Linked DNA regions of Homo sapiens. The protein of the gene in region 3 interacts with the protein of the main gene of each other region in a pairwise test. Each region holds a gene or a part of one and is shown on either strand. Other genes may lie near its edges.

Region 1 (4,188 bases), on a different chromosome or scaffold from region 3:
CCCTCTCAGGTCTTACTTGGGCATGCGCCTGGCCTTCTAGATCCTCAGGAATGTATCAGTGCTTTTCAAAGTCCCTGTGGACATCTCATTCCCCAGGCTGAGTGCAGTGGTGACATCACAGCTCACTGTAGCCTCAACATCCTGGGCTCCAGTGATCCTCCTGCTTCAGCCTCCCAAGTAGCTCTGACTACAGGCGTGCACCGCTACTCTCAAGTACTTTTTTAAATTTTTTATCGAGACGGAGTCTTGCTATGTTGCCCAGGCTGGTCTCAAACTCCTGAGTTCAAGCGATCCTCCCACCTTGGCCTCCCGAAGTGTTAAGATTATAGGCATGAGCCACTACATCTGGCACTGGAGCTTAAGTTTTAAGAGGCGTTCTCAAAAATCAATACCAAACTTACTGTTCATTTATTGATCACTTCTTCTGTCGTGCCAACTTAGCCTTGCAGTGGGGTGGAGGGCTAGGAAGAGACAAAGTGATGAGTGTTCATGTGTGTCTAAGTACCAGGGCATGAGAAGCGACTCTGAAGACCTCACTAATTGGCTGTTCCTTTTCTCTGTGGCCAGTGTTTGTCCAACATGATGCTGCCCAACTGTACCTCAAACTCTGGAACCTGATTAAGGACCAGATCACTGATGTGCACTTGGTAAGAACCTAGAACCAGAGCACTCGGAAGCTTAAGATGCTGCTCATTTCACTCATTCAGCTGTTGTTCCCGTAGTGTGTAGAGGAATAAAAGAGTTAATCCCCTGTAATCCCAGCACTTTGGGAGGCTGAGGCAGGCGGATCACGAGGTCAGGAGATCGAGACCATCCTGGCTAACACAGTGAAACCCTGTCTCTACTAAAAATACCAAAAAATTAGCTGGGCGTGGTGGCGGGAGCCTGTAGTCCCAGCTACTCGGGAGGCTGAGGCGGGAGAATGGCGTGAACCCGGGAAGCGGAGCTTGCAGTGAGCCGAGATCGCGCCACTGCACTCCAGCCTGGGTGACAGAGCGAGACTCTGTCTCAAAAAAAAAAAAAAAAAAAAGAAAAAAGAGTTAATCCACATAAAACACTTATCACAGTTTCATAATATTGTTACTGGTATTATTTTGCACCTTTGTGAGGAGCTTCTGTCTCTTGGCTCCACCTTCTGGCAGTTGGCCTGACCTGGCTTATGGTGGTGTTCCCATCTCACCTCTCCGCTCTCCCTCTTGCAGGTGGAGAGACTGCAGGCCCTGTATACGATCCGGGTGAAGGACTCCTTGATTTGCGTTGACTGTGCCATGGAGAGTAGCAGAAACAGCAGCATGCTCACCCTCCCACTTTCTCTTTTTGATGTGGACTCAAAGCCCCTGAAGACACTGGTAAGGGGATTCTCTTGGTATTTGCTGCCCCTGTATGTGTTAGTCCATTTTCTGTTGTTATAACTCAATATCTGAGACTAGGTAATTTATTTCTTACAGTTCTGGAGGCTGGGAAGTCAAGGTTGAGGGGCTGCACCTGGTGAGGGCCTGCTTGCTGGTGGGAACTCTCAGAGTCCTGAGGCGAGGCAGTGCAGGGCATCACATGGCGAGGGGGCTGAGCATGCTAATGTGCCAGCTCAAATCTCTCTTCCTCTTCGTATGAAGCCACCAGTCCCACTCCCAGGATAACCGATTAACCCATTAATCCATGAGTGGATTAATTCATTTATGAGGGCTGTGCCCTCATGATGCAATAACCTCCCCCCCCCCTTTTTTTTGGAGACAGAGTCTTCCTCTGTTGCCCAGACTGAAGTGCAGTGGCACAATCTCAGCTCACTGCAACCTCCGCCTCTGGTGTTAAGTGATTCTCCTGCCTCAGCCTCCCAAGTAGCTGGGATTACAGGTGCCCACCACCATGCCCAGCTAATTTCTGTATTTTTAGTAGAGATGGGGTTTCACCATGTTGGCCAGGCTGGTCTGAAACTCCTGACTTCATGATCCACCTGCCTCAGCCTCCCTGGGATTACAGGCATGAGCCACCTTGCCCTCCCCAATTATCTCTCAAAGTCCCCACCTTTCCATACAGCCACACTGGGGATTCAGTTTCAACCTGGGTTTTGGGGAGGACAAACCCTCAAACCATTACACCACACAGCACAGTGTGGCCAATTCCCCCTTGCCTCTTTGATCTATCTCTGGCTTCTGGAAAGTCACTTATTTCATTTTCATGGCACTGGCCAATTTCTCCTTTGTTTGGCAAAAATGTTTTTCCCTCCTACCTCCACTTCCCTCATACTGCTCCCTTAATAGGAGCCCCCTCCTGTTTTGTTCCTCCAGTCAGTAGGTGCCCTTTGAGATCCTGCCAAGTGGACCACACCAGGCCAGGCATTAAGGGGGATATGAGGAGAACCAGAAGAAAAGCTGAAACCCTCAGCTGCAAAGTGTGGGGAGGCTGTAACTGATACAGTTTGGGACTGTGTCCCTGCCCAAAAATCTCCTGTTCAATTGTAATCCCCAGTGTTGGAGGTAAAGCCTGGTGGAAGGACATTGGATCATGGGGGAGGGTTTCTCGTGAATGGTTTGGCACCATCCCCCGTGGTGCTGTCTTTGTGACAGTGAGCTCTCATGAGATCTGGTTGTTTAAAAGTGTGGAGCCAGGCTGGGTGTGGTAACTCACGCCCATAATCCCAGCACTTTGGGAGGCTGAGGTGGGTGGATCACCTGAGGTCAGGAGTTTGAGACCAGCCTGGCCAACATGGTAAAACCCTGTCTCTACTAAAAACATAAAAAAATTAGCTGGGCGTGGTGGCGCAGCCTGTAGTCCCAGCTACTTAGGAGGCTGAGGCAGGAGAATCGCTTGAACCCGGGAGGCGGAGATTGCGGTGAACTGAGATCGCGCCCCTGCACTCCAGCTCCCCACTTGGTCTCTTGCACCTGCTCCTCCCAGGTAAGACACCTGCTCCTCCCAGGTAAGACACCTGCTCCTGCTTGGCCTTCCGCCATGATTGGGAGCTTCCTGCGGCCTCCCTAGAAGCAGATGCTGCCATGCTTCCGGTTGGCCTGCAGAACCATGGGCCAATCAAACTTCTTTTCTTATAAATTACCCAGTCTCAGCTATTGTCTCACAGCAGTGTGAGAACAGATGAATATAGTATTCTAGGTGGGAAATACCAACGCTGCTTTTTCCCTGTTCTCTTGGGTGGGACAGGAGGACGCCCTGCACTGCTTCTTCCAGCCCAGGGAGTTATCAAGCAAAAGCAAGTGCTTCTGTGAGAACTGTGGGAAGAAGACCCGTGGGAAACAGGTACTCATTCCCTAAATCAGACTCAGCTGTCCCTCGGTGCATATGGGGGATTTGTTCCAGGACCCCTGCTTTTACCAAAATCCACACACACTCAAGTCACACCCAGTCGGCCCTGTGGAACCCACGTATAGGAAAAGTCAGTCCCTCATCTATGCGGTTGTGCATCTGGGATACTTTATTTTTGATGAGCATTTGGTTGCAGATGTGGAACTCGTGCCTATGGGGGAGGGCAGACTGTATTTATTTACAACAATTTGTGTATAAGCGGACCCATACAGTCCAAACCCGTGCTGTTCAGGGGTCATCTGTCCTTCACTAGTCTGGGGTTGCCCCCCGTGGATTTCCTGATAGAATCATCAGAGGCCCCGAGGACACCCCATGGTGGGTGAGAAAGGGAATCTGGGTCTGGCTAGTATCTGGGACGCTGTGGTTCTGATATCTGGAGCCGTGGATGTGGCTTCTCATGTCGCATCACTGAGAGGGACTGCAGGAGGGCGCCTGAGAGCAGCCGGCAGGGCGTTTCCCTCCAGGCGAGACCAGCTCCCTGGAGCAGACGCGGTGGCTCCCTGGGTCCTGGTACCTGTGCAGAGCCCTGTGCCCTTGTGCCTCTTGTGGGGGGCCACATGGTGGTAGAATAGCCAAGTTTTGCATTATTCTCAGAGGAGCTCAGCAGATTCGGCGAACAGGAGCCTTGAACTCCGTGATGTCGCCCCGCTCCCCTCTTTTTGGGAAGAACGCGTTGCTAGCCCTGACATTTCTCTGACTCTCTCATTCCAAGTAGACTTCATCTCCAGAGTGATTTTGATTTTTCAGGTCTTGAAGCTGACCCATTTGCCCCAGACCCTGACAATCCACCTCATGCGATTCTCCATCAGGAATTCACAGACGAGAAAGATCTGCCACTCCCTGTACTTCCCCCAGAGCTTGGATTTCAGC
Region 2 (4,188 bases), on a different chromosome or scaffold from region 3:
ATTTTAGTAGAGACAAGGTTTCACCATGTTAGCCAGGATGGTCTCGATCTCCTGACCTCGTGATCCTCCCACCTTGGGCTCCCAAAGTGCTGGGATTACAGGTGTGAGCCACCCTGCCCGGCCGATTCGGCCTCCAGTTTTACCCATGGAAGGAACAGTGACTTCCAGCTGTGCATTACACTTAAGGACTCCTTCATGTGGCCTGAGCCTTATGGTGCACAGCAAGGGAACAGTGGGAACCCCTGTGTCCCATTTTGCGTATCAAGAGTGAGAGGGTGTGGTTGGGTCAAGGAGCAGAAATAGAAGCAAAAGGAGAAGCTGAGCTCTTCCCATACCCCTTCTGTGCTGCCTGACAGAACAAGGCCTAGCCACACTTCTGTGGGTGCCCACCTTGTGACTTGGGGTGAACCACAGCTGTTCTCAGTACAACGCTGATGCCACGAAAGGACAGCAGAGCTCTGCAGGACTCCAGGAAGACTGGGCGCTTGGGCTGGATCCTGCCTCTGGGACTGGCCTTCTACCCTCATGGCTGAGAGAGCTGAGGAGTTCACCTCCTTTGTGAACTCCTGGCTGGAGGATGCTGGTTGGCATTAACTAAACTCAGAGACCCACAGTAACGAGTTAGACTAGAACAGCACCAGCTTACCCAGAAAGTCAGGAGGTTTGAGCAAAGAATCAGAATGGGGGATTCACTACAGGACTGGAAGGGGAAGTAAGCATTCTGGTCTTTATAATCTGCTGTTTCTGCATCCCTAATTGGCACCTGTTCTCTGACTGCCAGGAGGGTTTGCCCACTCAGCTGTGGCTTACCTGTTTCTGTTTCCATGTCTTTCACCTATCTGCCACTTTTCTGTAGATATGGTAATCTCTCCAAAAAGATATCTAGAAAGCTTGAAGACCTGGTAGCTATTTGCTCTTATGGTGAAGATCACACAAACTAGTTGAACATCTGGCTTGTAGTAGGTGCTTCATTTCCCGCTGCTCTGTATGTTTCTTTCTTTTTTTTTTTTTTTTTTTTTTTTGAGACGGGGTCTCATCTTGTCACCCAGGCTGGAGTGCAGTGGCGCAATCTCAGCTCACTGCCACCTCCACCTCCCGGGTTCAAGCGATTCTCCTGCCTCAGCCTCCCAAGTAGCTGGGATCACAGGCATGTACCACCACGCCCAGCTAATTTTTTGTATCTCTAATAGAGTCGAGGTTTGACCATGTTGGCCAGGCTGGTCTCGAACTTCTGACCTTGTGATGCACCTGCCTTGGCATCCCAAAGTGCTGGGATTACAGGCGTGCGCCACTGCACTCGGCCTGCTCTGTGTATTTCTTTTTCCTGTAGTCAGATTCTGGGGTCCAGGGTGGTTAGGAAAGAAACTTGTTTTCTTTCTTTCTTTTTTTTTTTGAGATGGAGTTTTGCTCTGTTGCCCAGGTTGAAGTGCAGTTGTGTGATCTCGGCTCACTGCAACCTCCACCCTCCTGGGTTCCAGAAATTCTCCTGCCTCAGCCTCCTGAGTAGCTCAAATTACAGGTGCGCACCACCACGCCTGGCTGATTTTTGTATTTTTAGTAGAGGCAGGGTTTTGCCGTGTTGGCCAGGTTGGTCTTGAACTCCTGACCTCAAGTGATTCACCCACCTTGGCTTCCCAAAGTGCTGGGATTACAGGTGTGAGCCACCACACCCAGCCTGAAACTTGGTTTCTTAGCTCCTAAATAGTGAAATCAAGATCAGAGCCCACTAAGCCAGCCGCTCTTCTTGGTTTTTGGTTCTCATGTCCTGGAGTCCCTCTCACCTTGACCAAACCAAAGACCTCCTGAAGCATCACTTGGGCTCACCACTTCCACTGAGGTGGATTTGAGTCATTGATCTGGGCAGAGCCTTCTGGAGTCGGGGTTTCTCTCGTCTCAAGGCAGAGGTCCTACAGAAGTTAGTGGTCTTGGCCAAGCGGACATTGATGCAACTGTGGCAAAATGGGACCTATAAGTCAGAGCTGATGACCTACTCGTGGAAAAGTACAGGGAGAAGTTTTACGAGGGGTCCATATTTTAACCTTTAACAGTGTTGTTCACGTTAACCCTTGTAATGGATGCTATTCCTTGCCTGATACCTGTCCTTTCCACCCAGCCTGCTTTTCTTTAATGCTGGTAAGCGGTCTCCCCTCCAGGCATTAGGCTGCACTTGAAGTTGATCTGCTCCTGTGAAGTGCATAGGGGTTCAACGATGCCTTGCTGCACACTGAATACCAGAGCCGAGTGCTCTTGCCAGCCCCTTAATACCATGTTCAACCTGATTTGTCAACAGGTTAACAGAAATGTGTTTGGAGATGTGTAAGTACACTGGAGTCTTGATATATAGCATGACCAGAAGTGTGGGTCACGAGGGCACACATGGGCATGGCAGCCCCTCAGTTGTCATCCATAGCATCTATCAGAGAGCACGCCTGTGTGCCCTGAACTCACGCACCAGGGGCAGCATGACACGGGAGCCGTTTCTCTAGGGAGAAACATGAGTACCAGTGCTGTCTTTCCCCACATCAGATTTGTGTTCAAACAGAGCTAGTCTGTGTTAAAGCTGGAGTGTTAATGGAGAAACAGACAAACTCTTGTACTATTTTGCCTTTGATTATAGACCATTATCAAAGCAAGAGGTTAGGAGTGATCAGTGCTCCCTTGTCATTTGCATCAGGTCCCAGGACTCACATTCTTTGCATGCTTGTGTGAGCTAGTGTTTTCCATGTCCTTGGGGTGTGGTCACAGCGACCTTTTTGCCTGAATAATGATTGGCAAGTTTTTGCTGAATGGCCACAGTGAATGGCTCCTCCTATGCTTCTGGCTCTAGTCCTGCTGTCTCACAATTGAGTCAATTCTGGGGTCTCTTCCGGAGAGCAGAGGGTCCAGCTGCGTGGGGAGTGTGGTGTTCCCAGCCCTGCTGTCTGTTCGCTGGGTGTGAGTGACAAGAGTCCCCACTCCCTGCAGAAATTCCATTACCTGGACAAGTCCCTGCACACTGGGTGAGGGGGGACCAGGCGGGGACCTGAGTCTTTGTCGGTAGCCGTTCCTATGTCATCGTTGTGTGCCTGGGTTTCCTGCCGTGTAAAAGGAAAGGCTGGAATCAATCACACGTCCCTTCCAGTTTTTCAAGAACTTGAGACTCTGGTGTTTGTAGCTTTGCAGACAGGTTCAGGCTTAGGTAAAGTGGACCCTTTCAGCATGATTCAGCATCTGTTCATGTGTTCCATAAATGTTTCTTGAGGGCCCACTGTGGACCCAGTGCTGCATCAGGCAGAGGAGATGCTGTGATGGAAGGCAGGTGTGGTCTGTGCCCTCACAGAGCTTGCTGTCCAGTGGAGGTGAGGATTCAGTAAGCACTTGTCCTATGTGCACCCCACCAGCAAGTCTCCCGCCTTCACAGCAGTCCCAATCAGTCACACAATTCAGGCATCGCAGGATGAAACATATTTAAGTCATTACACTGGGATACACTTTGTTACAGCACTGAACTTCTGCTGTTTGATCCTAGTTAACACCCCAAACACCAAAAATGAGTGTTTGGGGTATGCATCAGGAGCTTGTAGCAAAGGTACTTAACCCAGTCCATGGGTCTCCCCTACTCTGGGAGGGCATCTGGAGCAAATGGCCTTTAAGTGAGGACCTGACAGGTAAGATGATGCCAACTTGGGGAAGGTAAAGACTTTTCCAGGAGAGGGCCCAGCAGCTGCAGAGACCCAGAGGTGCAGGAGAGTGTGATGTTTTCAAAGGACTGGAAGGTTATAGCATGGAGTGAGATGCAGGGGATGGTGAGAGTGGAACCAGAGAAGGTATAATTGATAATCACATTCTGCAGAGTGCCGTAGGTCACAGTGAGGAGTTCAGGCCTTCCCTGCTGCTGTTGAGAAGGCATTCCATGGCCTTAACCAAGGAATAACATGAAGAACAGGAGCACAGGTTTTCGTGACATCCTTGGGGTGTTAACTAGGATCAAACAGCAGAAGTTCAGTGCTGTAACAAAGTGTATCCCAGTGTAATGACTTAAATATGTTTCATCCTGCGATGCCTGAATTGTGTGACTGATTGGGACTGCTGTGAAGGCGGGAGACTTGCTGGTGGGGTGCACATAGGACGAGCATAGGACCGTGTGTTCCTGCCAGCACGGCTCCGGCCTCCTGTTCGTGGCTGGACCGCTCTAGCTTTAGTTTCATT
Region 3 (3,676 bases):
GCCTTGCCTGTGGTAACAACCTCTTTGCCACCATTAGGATTTATGGGATTTTCTTTCTTCTTCTTTAAATTGGGATTTTTTTAAGTACATCAAATAATTTTATCTAGATTTCCTATTCGGTTCAACTGGTACAGCTTTTTTCTTCCCTTAATTGAATTACTTATCACTGAAAGTTTAACAACCTCCTTGAAAGTCAGTTGGGAAAGGTAACCAATCTAACAGAACCATATGAACTCTGCCGTTATCAGTTGAGGACCCTACGCTTTCACTTAAAGAAAGGGTTTGAAGTATGACACCACTGCACATAACCAACAGGATAGGAACTGTAGATTTTTAGAGCTCTAAAGGGTTGATCATTTAGTTCAATTCCTCCTTAAGAATGAGAAACTGAGTCAGAGGAAAAGGAAATGACCTTCCAAAGAGCATCAAGTGGGTGGAAGAATTGGGCTGGGATTCAGGTCTCCCGATGTTCAATTTGGGCCCTAAAAGTGCCTTGGACATTAAAAGTTATAACTATGCCTAAAAATAAAGTGGTAATTTGAAACAAAATCAGTTTGTTTCAGAATCGTTACTCTTTCAGAGAGAAAAAATATCTACGCCTCAGGAAGTAGAATGTTGGCTTAAATAAACCCTCCTTCTCAACCCTTTTCGTTAATAATTGAATATTTAAATGTCAAAGATGATTTGAGTATTCAGAGGAAAAACTGACATGAAAGAAACAGGTTTGAACCAAAATGTCTTTTATTTGAATACTGAATACATTCAGTTAGGACATAACAGTGTGCTAAGAATAAAATTTTTTAAAGAAAAAAATAGCACTGGCAGCAATACAATTAAAATGGAAAAAGCATAATTTCTAATAATTTCAAATATAACACAAATGACAAATAGATACATTATCATTCTGTGAACTCCACTTAAGACTTCCTTTATGTGACAAGTTGTAGTTTAAGCTTACTTGAGACATGAGTATTTGGAATTTTCAAAAAATACCAAATATATAAAAAATAGACACAACAAATGGAAGAGTATATCATGATTCATTAGACACTTTTAATGAAAATAGTGCTTGACAATTAGAAAACAGTTAAAATTTTTGCTTTAGAAAAAAACTACCTCAAACTAATGTTCATATTAGAGGTGACAGTGCTATTTGTGTTTCTAGCATTCCATATTGAAGTTTATCTTTTAAATACAAAAAAAATATGCTCTGCCCATTACAGCAGGATGACATGAACTTAGTTTTCTGTTCCTCCAGATGCTCAGAGCAGCAACAAGACAAGTCTCAGGATCATCATGAGGCTGGATTTAAAATAAAACAAAGACAAAGGGAGAGTCACTTTTATCTGGCATAAGACAGAAAGGGCCATGCACTCGCCTACCCAGTAGTGTTACTAATCCTTGGCTTGGGGGCTCTCCCAGCTCAACCCCTTGGAGGATTAAAACATCCCAGACATAACTGAATTAGCCACTTTAAAATGTTCGCTAAATGAATAAGGAAAAATCAGAACCTGTTGTTCTGAAAACCTTGGATGAGGGTTTATAAGAGAAAGGTTTGGGAAGAAACAAACTTTCAGAAGCTAGTAAAATAAAGCAACTTGAAAAAATAATCGAGGACCAACTTGGGGCAGTTACTAATTCAATCTCAGCTACTTTCTATTAACTGAGGCCTTCTTCCGGATCCATAAACCCTACTTCATTTTTTCTTCCTTTTTTTTTTCTTTTTTCTGATGGAGTCTCACTCTGTCACCCAGGCTGGAGTATAGTGACGCAGTCTCGGCTCACTGCAACCTCCACCTCCTGAGCTCAAGCAATTCTCCTGCCTCAGCCTCCCAAGTAGCTGGGATTACAGGTGCCCGCCACCACACTTGGCTAATTTTTGTAGAGATGGGGTTTTGCCATGTTGGCTAGGCTGGTCTTGAACTCCTGACCTCAAGTGATCCACCCGCCAAAGCCTTCCAAAGTGCTGGGATTACAGGCATGAGCCACCGCACCCAGCCCATAAACCCTACTTCTGATTCTTCCCACCACCAAGTATCACTTTTAGAACAGGGCTATAACTGGAAAGCTGTCTTTTGTAATCACACTCCTCCTCCCCTCCCTGAAACATAATACATAGTCACACTAGAAAATTCTACACAAAAGTAGAAAGAGGAACATTACAATTATTCATCACACTATCACCCACAGAAAAACACTAACAGCTTGAAATATTTCCTTCCTGTTTTTTTATACACAAACTTTTTTTAATCACACTATATGTGGTTGTTTTCATCCTGTTTTTATACCTTATTATGTCACTAAGATTTTCCAATGCCACCAAATCATTTTTGAAAACATAAAAATGTAATGCTCATTCAATATTCCATTAAATGGACAAAACATTTTTTCAAACATCTCCTTACTGGTGAACTGTTAGGTTGTTCCTAATTTTTCAGTCTATTGTGTTTTCACTAGAAATAAAGTTGCAATGAACATCAGTCTTTGTGCATATCTCACTGCTTTGGAATAAATTCCAAAAAGTGAAAATGTCTATCAAAGGAAATAAACATGTTTATGGCTTTCAACATATAAAGCCAGCTTTCTGGAGAAATTTTTAAAATGTTATCTCTAAATTTTTATTTGGTAATATGCTTAATCTCATGGATAGAATTACTGGATCAAATTAAGAGAAACTTGAGGCCCTCTGTTTATCTTTTAAAAAATATTAAAACTTCTCTCTTAAAAACTCTTAAAAATATTAAATTTCTGTCCCTTAAAAACTTGAAATAACTGTATCACACTGTCACTCTGTCAAACTCTCTAAAAGGGACTGAGTATTAGATTTAAATGAACACATTTAGTGTTGCAGATGGGTGAATCTTGAGGAAAAATGAGGCTGAGTTTAGTTAGCTCTTTCTTCTGAAAAAGGCAAGTATGCCTATGTGACCAGATACTACAGCAACACTATGCGTATCCAATAAGAATGTTCATGGGTACATCAATATCAAAGACCCACTGAATCCATGCTATCTTAAGGTTTTTACTGTCATGCTTATTATAACAAAAAGGACTTTGATCTTTCAAATTAAAATTGATGTTTCCCAAAAATTCAGCACTTCAAAACAACAGCAGAGGAAAGTATTGATCAAAATAGTTTTACTTACCTTAAACCTGCAACCAAACCAGCAGGCATTATTTTCTTGGACCTCTTAAATCTCACACCCATTATGGTAGCCAGGAAGAAAGCTGTAACTGAAAACCAAACTAATTCATGAACCAGAGTTTCAAACATGTTATCAATGCTTGTGGGAAAACAGCGGGTACCATTTAAAGCTTTCTAACATTACAACTATTATGGATAGGTACTGAGTTGCCATTGTCTTGAAAAGATAAAGTGCTCTATTAAAACACTTCATGGCCGGGCCAGTGGCTTACGCCTATAATCCCAGCACTTTGGGAGGCAGAGATGGGTGGATCACCTGATGTTGGGAGTTTGAGGCCAGTCTGACCAACATGGAGAAACCTCGTCTCTACTAAAAATACAAAAAAAATTAGCAGGGCATGGTGGCACATGCCTGTAATCCCAGCTACTCGGGAGGCTGAGGCAGGAGAATTGCTTGAACCGGGGAGGCAGAGGTTGTGGTGAACTGAGATCACGCCACTGCACTCCAGACTGAGCAACAAGAGCGAACTC
Region 4 (4,188 bases), on a different chromosome or scaffold from region 3:
ATCAATTCCTGCCACTGCTGCAGTCTTGCAATTTAACCAGTTCTTATGTGACCTCTGGCTTTATTGGTGACAGTCACAAACAATTGTAGTACTGACTTGAACTAAATGATCTCAGCAGAGTGAGATTTCAAAAGGCGCTTAAAACCTACAGCTCTTTGAATAGTTAGCACACATTCTACTCTTAATCAGGCCTTGTCTTACTGAAGAGTTTGGATTTAATTTAAGAAACGCTTCTTCAGACCTTTCTGTACTTAAGTCTGGCTCCTTAAATCATTGGTATTAAAAAATTAAGTCTGTAACAATGAGAATACATATATTTCCAATAACCAAGATACATAGCCCATATTGAGGTCACAGCATGTTTCCCAGGAGACACCAGTATCCTTTACTTGCCTATCACAAACCCAGTTCCTCTATGGAGCAGATCTGTATCATTCCTAACAGTGCCGCTCCTGATGGCAGGGTGAGTGGTTAGATTAATTGTCTTTTTTTTTTCAGGGATATCCTATCTGTAGTGTCTGTTGCTGCATGTGGTGGGTTGACTTCAGAGATAGCACCAGAGAAAGGCAGACAGGGAGGAGTGGAGGCAAGGTGGGAGGTAGGGTCAGGGCACCGACCCAACTTAAAAGGTAAGGCCAAGTGTGTTCACTCTTTGCTACATTCTCAGAGTCTTGCACAGCCCATGGCACTGGGTTGGCACCTCACGCCTGTCAGATTGTGCTTCCCAGGGACTTGCCACACTTTTGACTCTACTGAGAGCCGTTGAGAACTTTCCCTCCTGGGCTCACCACTGCTGCCCTGACCCTTGAGCTACACCTCGCTAATATTTATCTCTTGCATTTTTGAGCTCTTCCTTTCTCTCTTCTGGAAACTTCCTCCATGTTACACACACACACGATACACAAAGTCTCCTGTTTTAAAAGAACAAAAGACTCTTTTCTTGACTTCATGTCCTCCTAACTTCATCACTACCTCTCTCCCTCCCTTTTCAGCCAGACATTTTAATGTAGTTGTGGACATCTACTGGTTCTACCCCATTGCTTCCCGTCCTTCCTCAGTCCTCTGGGCGCCATTCTCTGGAAATGTTCCTCTGTGCTGTGTGTGACACTGAGGGCCACTCCCTCTGTGGGACCTTTCATTCCCTCGGCTAACCTGGTGCTAGTTTTTGGATCTCCTTTTTCTCTTCATCTCCCGGATACCTGTGCCCTGAAAGTCATCTTTGGTTCCTCCTACTCTTTCATTCCACATGTCCTAATGATTTTACCTTCCACTATTTCTCAATTTCTCCCTTTCCTGCCTCCTTATTCTTACTGCCCCACTTCATGCCTTCATCATCTCTTGAGCAAACACTATCCATAGTGCTTGAGAGCTTTTCCTGCTCCCTCCCCCAGCCACTGTTACCACTGCCAAGAGTTTCCCTGTCTTCAGTGGCTGCCCTCCATCTCCAGAACAGTGTCCAACTCCAGAGCACAGCTCCCACGGCCATTTGCGGCTGGCCTAGCCCACCTAACTTACAGCCTCATTGCCCTCCTCTCACCAGTGTCACAGTGAGCTGCTGCTACTTCCCAAAGGGTCTGCACTCCCTGATGTACTTTCTCTACCTCTTCTGCCCAGTCAACAGCTGCTCCTCCTTCAACTCCTTCCCCAACTCCCCTGAAGGATTATCAATGTTGATTATTAATACCATGAAGGGGATAGTAAGTGTCTCCCTTGTTGGGCTTCTAAGATACCTGTGCCCTCCCCAGTACAGCATCCCCCTCACTGTACTATTGTTCTTTGTCTCTCCCCGCTGGACCGTGTACCTGCTGAGAGCAGACACTTTCATTCAGTTTCTGTCCACAGAGCCAGACACATAGTAAGAACAGAACACATCTCTGATTAAATTGGAAATGGATAAGACACCAGGTAGTGGGGGAAAATTAATTGATTTTGCTCCATGAGCTGGGATAGACCTCAGTTACAGTACTCAGCACTGCATAAGTAATCAATACAGGTTTTCATGAAACTGAACTGCTTTGAGAACAGCCCAAAGTATATCTCATGTTAAGCTGACTATTGGCACCTTCTGCATGAAGGCATGCTTGTTCTGTGATTCTCCTGTGTGAGTAAAGTTGCTCAGCAGTTTCCAGCCATGCCATGGTTGTACCCTACTGATTCCTCTTGGGGAGTTTGCCCCTGATATGCTTTGGCTGTGTCCCTACCCATGTCTCATCTTGAATTCCCACATGTTGTGGGAGGGACCTGGTGGGAGGTAATTGAATCATGAGAGCAAGTCTTTCCCATGCTGTTCTCACAATAGTGAATAAGTCTCATGAGATCTGATGGAAAAAGAGAAACTCCCCTGCACAAGCTCTCTCTCTTTGCCTGCTGCCAGCCACATAAGACATGACTTGCTCTTCCTTGCCTTCCACCATGATTGGGAGGCTTCCCCAGCCATGTAGAACTGTAAGCCCAATGAAACCTTTCTTTTGTAAGTTGTACAGCCTTGGGTATGTCTTTTGTTGTTGTTGTTTTTTGTGAGACAGAGTTTCACTCTTGTTGCCCAGGCTGGAGTGCAATGGCATGATCTCGGCTTACTGCAACCTCTCCTGCCTCAGCCTCCTGAGTAGCTGGGATTACAGGCATGAGCCACCACACCTGGCTAATTTTTTTTTTTTCTGAGACAGAGTCTTGCTGTCGCCCAGGCTGGAGTGCAGTAGCGCAATCTCGGCTCACTGCAAGCTCCGCCCCCTGGGGTTCATGCCATTCTCTTGCCTCAGCCTCCCGAGTAGCTGGGACTACAGGCGACCGCCACCTCGCCCGGCTAATTTTTTGTATTTTTAGTAGAGACAGGGTTTCACCGTGTTAGCCAGGATGGTCTCGATCTCCTGACCTCGTGATCCGCCCGCCTTGGCCTCCCAAAGTGCTGGGATTACAGGCGTGAGCCACCGCGCCCGGCCTAATTTTGTATTTTTTAGTAGAGATGGTGTTTCTCCATGTTGGTCAGGCTGGTCTCAAACTCCTGACCTCAGGTGATCCACCCACCTCAGCCTCCCAAAGTGCTGGGATGACAGGTGTGAGCCACTGTGCCCGGCCTTGGGTATGTCTTTATCAGCAGCGTGAAAACAGACTAATACAGCCCCTTTCTTGGTCTGGCCCGAGGTGGCCACTTTTAAGCTGCCTGTAATATGCTGGCCATATAAGAGAGCTGAGAGAACCATGTCCTCACTGTAACACCCAAGTACTCTCCACTATCAGAGAGGAAGTCATAACAACACCAGTTATTCCTGGCTCCATAGGCACAGCCACCTTAATTTTCCAAGTAGCAGTCAGAAGCTGTGGTCTGACAATGGATTTTTGTGCTGCAAATGGGTTAAAGAGGCTGTCTGGGAGGTTTAGTGAGTGCACGAATTGGCATTTCTGGGGTACGTTGATGATTGGTAAAGCAGAAATATATGAACTATTTGATGTTAAGATTGCCTAGGAAAACATGGAGGATTTGCTTGCTGAACACACAGATCTTTGTCCAAGGTCACTCTGTCTATGCTGGCAAAGCTGCCCCTCCTCCAGGCCCCCAGTGATGCTAAGAATTCACACCATCTCCTATCCAGAACCAGTAACTGCCTGGGAGGTTCCTGATGGGAATATTCTGCCTATGCAGGTGCTTTGCTTCCCCGGTTAGATTAGAAAACAGTCTGCACTGTGGCCCCTGTTCCTTGCCTCCTCTCTTCCAACTTGTTGACTGAGACAGCAAATGATGCTTAATAAGCAGCATGGTTCTGAACAAAGGCTCTGGAAGGCCTAGAGTGAAATGCTTAATAGGCCCACAGCCCCTACCCTCCAAGTTATAGAATGAAGTGGAGCCCACTCCATCAAGGCTTCTATCCTACCACCGACCACTCATTGAGATGTCACTTGGCATCAGGTGTCTTTTGACTTGCTCAGCCTGCAATGTTTAGAGTGCCATTATCAGCCCAAGACCAAACTGGGTAACCTTGGACTCCTTCCTGAATGTTTCTTAAGCTGTCCAACTTTGCATTTCAGCTGTGAATACCTTATTGCCTCTTCACTGAGCAAAAATGAACAGTTTTTAAATCCCATAATTATGTCTTTAGCTGAATAATCAGGAAAGCTAATAATCCTCTTTAATTCCTCCCATGTAACTTTCAGTAGCTCAAGGGTATAAAGACTTTAATGTTTGCCTGTCTT
Region 5 (4,188 bases), on a different chromosome or scaffold from region 3:
AGGTAGGCTAGGCGTGGTGGCTCAGGCCTGTAGTCCCAGCACTTTGGGAGGCTGAGGCGGGCAGATCACTTGAGCCCAGGGAGTTCGAGACCAGCCTGAGCAACATGGTGAAACCCTGCCTTTACAAAAAATACAAAAAAGTCATGGTACCAGCTACTCGGGAGGCTGAGGTGGGAGAATCACCTGGGCCCAGTAGATCAAGGCTGCAGTGAGCCATGATGACGCCATCGCACCCCAGCTTGGGCAACAGAGTGAGACTTTGTCTCAAAAAAAAAAAAAAAAAAGATGAACCAAGCACTGATATAGAAGCTGTAGCAAGTTATTCAGAAGATCTAGCTAACATCATTGTTGAAAGTGGCTACAATTAAAGAGCTCCTCAGTGTAGACAAAATAGCCTTATACTAGAAGAAGATGCCATTGAGGACTTTGATAGCGAGAGAGAAGTCAGTGCCTAGCTTCAAAGGAGGGGTGATCCTCTTGTTAAGGGTTAATGCTGTTGGAGGATTGACTCCAGTTTTGAAAGAAGTTGTGGTAAAATGCTATCAGACAGTATTGCATGCTTTAGAGAAATCTTCATTGAAAGGATGAGTCAATGCAGCAAACTTCATTATATTTTAAGAAATTGCCACAGCCACTCCAGCCTTCAGAAACCACTGCCTTCATCAGTCAACAGCCATCAACATGGAAGTGAGACCCTCCACCAGCAAAAAAAATGATGACTCACTGAAGGCGTAGATGATCTTTAGCAGGTTTTAGCAAAGTATTTTTAATTAAGGAATATATATTTTTAAGACATAATGCTGTTGTACACTTAATATACTATAATATAGTGTAAACAATTTTTATATGCAGTGGGAAACCAAAAAATTTGTGTGACTTACTTACTGCAATTGCAATATTTGGTTTATTGCAGTGGTCTGGAACCAAATTTGAAATGTCTCTGATGCTTGTACTGCTCTAATCTTGTACCTTTTAAAATCTTTCGGCTGGGTTAGTTGTCCTAGTTTCAACAGTGCTATGTATGAAATATATACATATGGTCATGAAATACATTTTTTTCCTGCAGAAGTCAAATTTTCTACTACTCTACTGGGATGACTGTGGGAATTGTGGCCTCTCTGCTAATCATCATTTTTATACTATCTAAGTTTATGCCTAAGGTAAGTATCAGAATCTTCATGTGCAGCTAGAATGAATTTGGATAGCTGAAGGACTGTTTTCCTGGGTAATCTTAGAAAACTGAAAATGTGTATTGATGGCTGATGAGTCAATATCCTACTCTCCTTGATTCAGAAAGGTACTTTCCACGATGAAACTTGGAGCCTGATTACAAATTCTTTCTTTTTATATAAAATCCTGTGCTCAGAGGGGGATTAAAGTCTGCTTCCTGTTTTTTAATTATATAGCCAGGCTTTTAAGTTATTTAGCATTTCATCTTCCCAGTGTTCGTTGCAGACTGTACCATTTTAAGTATAAAGGACATCTTTTTAAGAGAAGTGTTTTTTGTGCATTTTGAGTAGGTTGAATTTTTTAAAAAAAAAATCATAGTTCCATTTTGCTTCTTTTATGTATGGAAAGCCTGTTGTAACTTTTTGCTTTCACTTCTACTCTCTGTCTTAGAAAAGTCCCATTTACGTCATCCTGGTGGGAGGCTGGTCTTTTTCTCTGTACCTCATTCAACTAGTTTTTAAAAATTTACAAGAGATCTGGAGGTGTTACTGGCAGTATCTTTTAAGTAAGTGTTGTCGGTTTTGCTTTCCTTTTGTACGTTTATAGGCTGTTTCAGTTAATTTGATCATGAAAAGATTTTGCCTGCTTATGGGATTTAATAGTTCATGTCATTTTTTTAAACTTTTAAAAATCATAGTTTTTCACTTATTTCTAATCCCTCTACAATTATCACCTTCTCTTAAATTAGAATGGTGCTGTTAAGGCGAAGATGTTCATTTATTGGTATTTATAAATATACCTTTCTTTACACAATAAACATCTTTCTGAAAAGCTGTAAGTTGACTTTATTAATGGAATCATATTTTAAATATACTTGGGGACCTTAAGTAAAAGACTCCGCAGTTAATTTTTTTCTCCTTCATTTCTGAATGAACTGCTGTAGATTTTATTTACAAAGTAAAAATCCTTGGTCATATAGATAGTAACCTTTGAGTTATCCTTTGAAGGGTGATTAATCTGGATTTCTGTATATTGGTTTTTTAAAATAGTCTATTTCAGGGTTGTTCAACATGTACCTTTAATGTTCTGTTTGAACCAAATAAATTTGGGACAGCAGAAAGGATAGAAACTTAGAGAAATATATTCTAAGAAAAAAGTGTGAAAAATTAAGTAAAAATCTGATTTCCTAGTTCAATTGGTGCTATATAGTAAATTAACTACTGCTTCCCACACAAATTATTTTTACCAAGTATAGATGAAAAAGAATGTCTTCTGATAACTCTTCTCATAGGTTATGTCCTCACAGTTGGATTCATGAGTTTTGCAGTATGTTACAAGTATGGGCCCTTGGAGAATGAACGAAGTATCAACCTGCTGACCTGGACCTTGCAGCTGATGGGCCTGTGTTTCATGTATTCTGGCATCCAGATACCACATATTGCCCTTGCCATTATCATCATTGCTCTTTGTACTAAGAACCTGGAACACCCTATTCAGTGGCTGTACATCACCTGCAGGTGACTGAAAGGCAATGTAACTTAATATTGACAGGTACATTGTGGGATGCAGTTGCAGCAAGAGGATACAGAGGTGTTGACCTGGGAGCTTCTTTGTTAATGAAAAGTCATTGTATTGTACTTCCACTTTTGTTCCTTCCCGAGTCTATTTTTTTTTTTTTACTTTCTATAGGAATTTTTATATTTTTATTCTAGTCATTTTATATAAAATGTCTAGTAAAATGTCATGTGTTCCTGTTACCACAAGGTGGTGCAAATTCTATCACTGTTTTTTTGAGATGGAGTCTCGCTCTGTCGCCCAGGCTGGAGTGCAGTGGCGTGATCTCGGCTCACTGCAACCTCCACCTCCCGGGTTCAAACGATTCTTCTGCCTCAGCCTCCTGAGTAGCTGGGATTACAGGCATGCGCCACCACATTCAGCTAATTTTTATATTTTTAGTAGGGTTCCCCATGTTGACCAGGCTGGTCTTGAACTCCTGACCTCAAATGTCAGGAGTTCATAAAGTGCTGAGGAGCTCCCAAAGTGCTTGGATTACAAAGTGCTGGGATTACAGACATGAGCCACTGCGCCCCGCCACAAATTGTATCGCTTTTATACCGTATGCTCATTGAGGTCTCCTGGGTTCAGATTTTTTTTTTGAGACAGAGTCTCTCTCTGTCACCCAGGCTGGAGCACAATGGCGTGATCTCGGCTCACTGCAGCCTCCACCTCCCGGGTTCAAGTGATTCTTCTGCCTCAGCCTCCCGAATAGTTGGGACTACGGGTGGGCGCCACTATGCCTGGCTAATTTTTGTATTTTTAATAGAGATGTGGTTTCACCATGTTGGCCAGGGTGGTCTCAAACTCCTGACCTCAGGTGATTTGCCCACCTCAGCCCCACAAAGTGCTAGGATTATAGGCGTGAGCCACCTCACCCAGCCCATTTCAGACTATTTCTCAGTGGCTTTCAGATTGCTCTGGAGGTCTTAGTCTTATTTTAAGATGTAATTCATAGCATGTTTTGTCACCTTGCATAATAAATATGGAATGTTACTAGGTCCTGAAGTTGTCTATTATAGATAGTCAAGGTGATGCTTTCAGTTTGGGAAACCAAGTTACTGGACCACAATCTTTTTTTTTTGAGATGGAGTCTTGCTCTGTCACCAGGCTGGAGTGCAGTGGTGCTATCTCAGCTCACCGCAACCTCTGCCTCCTGGGTTTAAGCGATTCTCCTGCCTCAGCCTCCTGAGTAGCTGGGGTTACAGGTACATGCCACCATGCCCAGCTAATTTTTGCATTTTTATAGTAGAGATGGCGTTTCACTATGTTGGCCAGGATAGTCTCAATCTTGACCTTGTGATCTGCCCACCTTGGCCTCCCAAAGTGCTGGGATTACAGGTGTGAGCCACCTTGCCCGGCGTTTTTTTTTGTTTTTTTTTTTTTTTGAGATGGAGTTTTGCTCTTGTTGCCCAGGCTGGAGTGCAATGGCATGATCTCGGCTCACTGCAACCTCCGCCTCCC
Region 6 (3,394 bases), on a different chromosome or scaffold from region 3:
AATAGGATTTCTAATACTTTAAAGCTAGTCCTATTACAGAATCGACTGCAGGTAACCCAAAACCAATACAGAGAAACCATCCTGAAGGTTCTCCTTGGTCCACTTCCAGAACCAAATTCTGTATCAGTCTGGGTTCAATCAATCCAAGAAGTAAAATTGCTAGAGCAGTTGTGTGAGCTGATTAAATAGCGTATTTGAGGTTTTCGCTTCTGTGTCTGGTGCTGCTGTCTAAAGTCCACGGATTTAAGAAGGAAAGCTGGATGTTAGGAGGGGACGCAGGGGAAGCTAGAACCTGGGAGGAGGGACTGGAGCTCTGGAGGATGGTCGAATCTCAAGCCAGGAGGAGGTGAGCAGGAGCTGGAGAAGCTGTGAGCACACTGCCGTCACCCACCCCCTGCAGGGCAGCAGATGAGACTCGGAGTGCCGAGCTTGTGGTGGCGTCTGGCACTTGACACAGACATACTGAGGGCAGAGAGCAAGCTACTGCTGCACTTCCGCCTTCAAAATCTCACGCAATTGCCTCTTGTGGGGAACACTAACCCGGAGCGGTGCAAGGAAAAGTCTTTTCAGCTTCGCGAAGTTGACACAATATAAACCCACTGTGCATCGATTAACCCTCGGCCAGGTACTGTTCAAGGTGGAGGGAGAAGATATCTAAGACAGGCAGTGTCCTCACCGAGGTGATAGCTGGGGCTGTGGGAGATGGGGAGAAGTAGAGACATAATCGCGATAAACAGAAAAGCAACGTCGTGCTGCTGTGTCATTCCCAGAAGGGACTCACAGGACTAGTTCTGAGGAAGGTACTCCCAGCAAGCTGACATTTTAGTTGTCTGTTACCTTATTTTATTCATATCTGTGCCATATTTCACTTCCACTTTAAGGTTTTATTCCTGGGAACAAATATTGACTGTGCATTTTATAGTTGGTGCCTTTAATCACCACAAGGCTGATCGCTGTTCGTCTTGTTGCCAGCATACTGACTTAGGTGTTTTCCTCCCCCATCTTCTCTTTAGAATGTTCTAGTTCAAATACGCTTCTTCAGAATTGTGCCTGGAGAGGCTGTAAGCCAGGACGTAGCCACAGGGCCCAGTTTCTGAGTCTCGTATCTGTAGGAGCACAGGAGCTTTCTCAGGGAAATAACATTGAACAACACTCACCAGTTCATAGCATTGGTATAATCCTGACTCTTTCACTAAGTAGTCGTACGACTTCATCCAATTTAACTCTATATTTTTGTTTTCTCATCTTTAAAAAGTAGGAATTATCCAGGGAGATCATTAACCCATCTCTCAATTTTAACATCCTATGATTCTATGATTCTGCCACAGTAAGGATTGGAACTATATTCAACAGAGAAGAAATTCTTACCCATGAACAGACATTATTTTACATTTCAGAATGCATTATTAAGCTTGTTGCATACAGTCCTGGATATCTGTAAAAATGGGTAGATTGTCCATATGTCTGGAGTTACATAGATTTGAGAATGGAATAGATGAACTTATAATGTGTATAATTATAATTAGATGATTTAATGACTCTTATCTGGTGAAGTTCATAAAAGAAAAAAGGAAATTCCCTTTTTCCTTCTCCGCCCAGACACCACACACCCCCCAGGCACACATGAACACTGGTGCTAAAGCTTTATGTGAGCTACCTGACAGCCGCACCTGTGGGGAGTCTGTGGCTTAATTAATTTTCACCAAGATTTGTAAAATGGGATTAATTCAAAGAATCAATGATCTAATTAATGTAATTGCTTGAATTGTAATGCAACATAATTACTATAAAATAAATGAAGCAGGGTATTCGAGCCATGAAAGAAATTTATGACATCATTTGTGATTTCATTTTTAAGCTCTTTTAAAAATAAATCCATATTAGGCCAGTTTGTCATCATGACACTCTGGGAACAAATGTGCTGTTACAATGACAGTTTGATTTGGAACAGAATTTCACATATTATAGATGCTTTTAAAGCATTAAACATTTTGAGCTAAATAATTTATTAAAATACACCTCTTAGGAATTTAAATGTTTCAACGCTAATTGAAAGTGATCTGTGGGAAAATAAATTTGCCTTTGTAACTTTAATTTGGATGAATACAACCAATTTTTAAAGTATTTGCTTTTATGACAATTTATCTGAAATTCCTAAATAAATGGCACAAATTTTGCCTTTCTCTCATCTTGACTGCTATGGGCTGTCTCATTTCAAATATTGGGAAGTGACAGTTTAATGAACTCATTGAGTGTATGAGCAAAAGTCACTGTATTTATTGGGTGTGGTCTAGGACGCAAATATGAGGAAATGTACTCACGAGGGCCACCATCTGGAGACGCAGGGAAGCCTGGCCTACAGGTCAATAGAATAGAAGGCGAAATCTTCTGTCCGTCCACCTGGGGCTCCCTCTGTCCCTGTCCAGCGCACCCCTTTCCTCACAGCTTCTGGTCTGTGCGTGCTCTGGTGCTGCTGCTTACTCTAGTGTAATTTTCTTTTTCTTTTTTTTCTTTTTTTTTTTTGATACGGAGTTTTGCTCTTGTCACCCAGGCTGGAGTGCAATGGCGCGATCTCTGCTCACTGCAACCTCTGCCTCCCAGGTTCAAGCAATTCTCCTGGCTCAGCCTTCCAAGTAGTTGGGATTACAGGTGCCCGCCACCACGCCCAGCGAATTTTTGTATTTTTAGTAGAGACGGGGTGTCACCATGTTGGCCAGGCTGGTCCTGAACTCCTGACTTCAGTTGATCCACCCACCTTGGCCTCCCAAAGTGCTGGGATTACAGGTGTGAGCCACTGCGCCCAACCACTCTAGTGTAATCTTTTTGACTTTTCCTGTCTCTCAATTCCTGTTTCCCCCTGCACCAAATATATGCATTTAATATGTAAACTGAATTGAATTTATTATAATTTAATCTGAGTAAAAAGCAGTATAAAGTGCTTTAAGACCCTTCAAAGGAGGAAGCTCTTACCACTAGGTGGGCAAATGAGCAAAGGCTTCTGGCATTTCTATTTGAGATAGACTTGGGAGAATGGGCAGGATTTAGAAAGTTGATGTGAGGAGCCATTCGAGGCAGAAGGAATAGTAAGAAACAGAGGCAGAAGAGCCGCAAAAGAAAAAAAACATATTTGCAGAACATCTCATAATATTTGACTAATGTAGCTGGGAGCAATGGCTCACACCTGCCATCCCAGCACTTTGGGAGGCCGAGGCAAGTGGATGGCTGGAGCCCAGGAGTTTGAGAGCAGCCTAGACAAAATGGCAAAACCCCGTCTCTACAAAAATACAAAAACGAGCCGGGTGTGGTGGTGTGCACCTGTGGTCCCTGCTGCTTGGGAGGCTGAGGTAGGAGGATTGCTTGAGCCCTGCAGGCGGAGGTTGCAGTGAGCCAAGGT

Evidence for each region.
Region 1: the proteins of TMEM14A (region 3) and USP18 interact in a two-hybrid assay, tested with the Homo sapiens proteins (one large-scale study listed by BioGRID and IntAct).
Region 2: the proteins of TMEM14A (region 3) and CLN8 interact in a two-hybrid assay, tested with the Homo sapiens proteins (one study listed by BioGRID).
Region 4: the proteins of TMEM14A (region 3) and MTNR1B interact in a two-hybrid assay, tested with the Homo sapiens proteins (one large-scale study listed by BioGRID and IntAct).
Region 5: the proteins of TMEM14A (region 3) and NEMP1 interact in binary tests that used the Homo sapiens proteins (3 or more experiments, as listed by UniProt).
Region 6: the proteins of TMEM14A (region 3) and MTNR1A interact in a two-hybrid assay, tested with the Homo sapiens proteins (one large-scale study listed by BioGRID and IntAct).

What each region holds. Positions count from the first base shown.
Region 1 is NC_000022.11:18,166,688-18,170,875, forward strand, and holds part of USP18 (ubl carboxyl-terminal hydrolase 18), read left to right. Parts: intron 1-567; coding exon 568-647; intron 648-1,202; coding exon 1,203-1,349; intron 1,350-3,156; coding exon 3,157-3,252; intron 3,253-4,065; coding exon 4,066-4,188. UniProt on the Homo sapiens protein: Interferon-induced ISG15-specific protease that plays a crucial role for maintaining a proper balance of ISG15-conjugated proteins in cells. Regulates protein ISGylation by efficiently cleaving ISG15 conjugates linked via isopeptide bonds.
Region 2 is NC_000008.11:1,766,568-1,770,755, forward strand, and holds part of CLN8 (protein CLN8), read left to right. Parts: intron 1-4,188. UniProt on the Homo sapiens protein: Could play a role in cell proliferation during neuronal differentiation and in protection against cell death.
Region 3 is NC_000006.12:52,683,636-52,687,311, reverse strand, and holds the end of TMEM14A (transmembrane protein 14A), read right to left. Parts: intron 3,235-3,676; coding exon 3,147-3,234; intron 1,303-3,146; coding exon 1,263-1,302; 3' UTR 724-1,262; downstream 1-723. UniProt on the Homo sapiens protein: Inhibits apoptosis via negative regulation of the mitochondrial outer membrane permeabilization involved in apoptotic signaling pathway.
Region 4 is NC_000011.10:92,971,963-92,976,150, forward strand, and holds part of MTNR1B (melatonin receptor type 1B), read left to right. Parts: intron 1-4,188.
Region 5 is NC_000012.12:57,061,618-57,065,805, reverse strand, and holds part of NEMP1 (nuclear envelope integral membrane protein 1 isoform a precursor), read left to right. Parts: intron 1-1,066; coding exon 1,067-1,160; intron 1,161-1,620; coding exon 1,621-1,735; intron 1,736-2,461; coding exon 2,462-2,687; intron 2,688-4,188. UniProt on the Homo sapiens protein: Together with EMD, contributes to nuclear envelope stiffness in germ cells. Required for female fertility. Essential for normal erythropoiesis. Required for efficient nuclear envelope opening and enucleation during the late stages of erythroblast maturation.
Region 6 is NC_000004.12:186,535,476-186,538,869, reverse strand, and holds part of MTNR1A (melatonin receptor type 1A), read left to right. Parts: intron 1-158; exon of another isoform or gene 159-625; intron 626-3,394.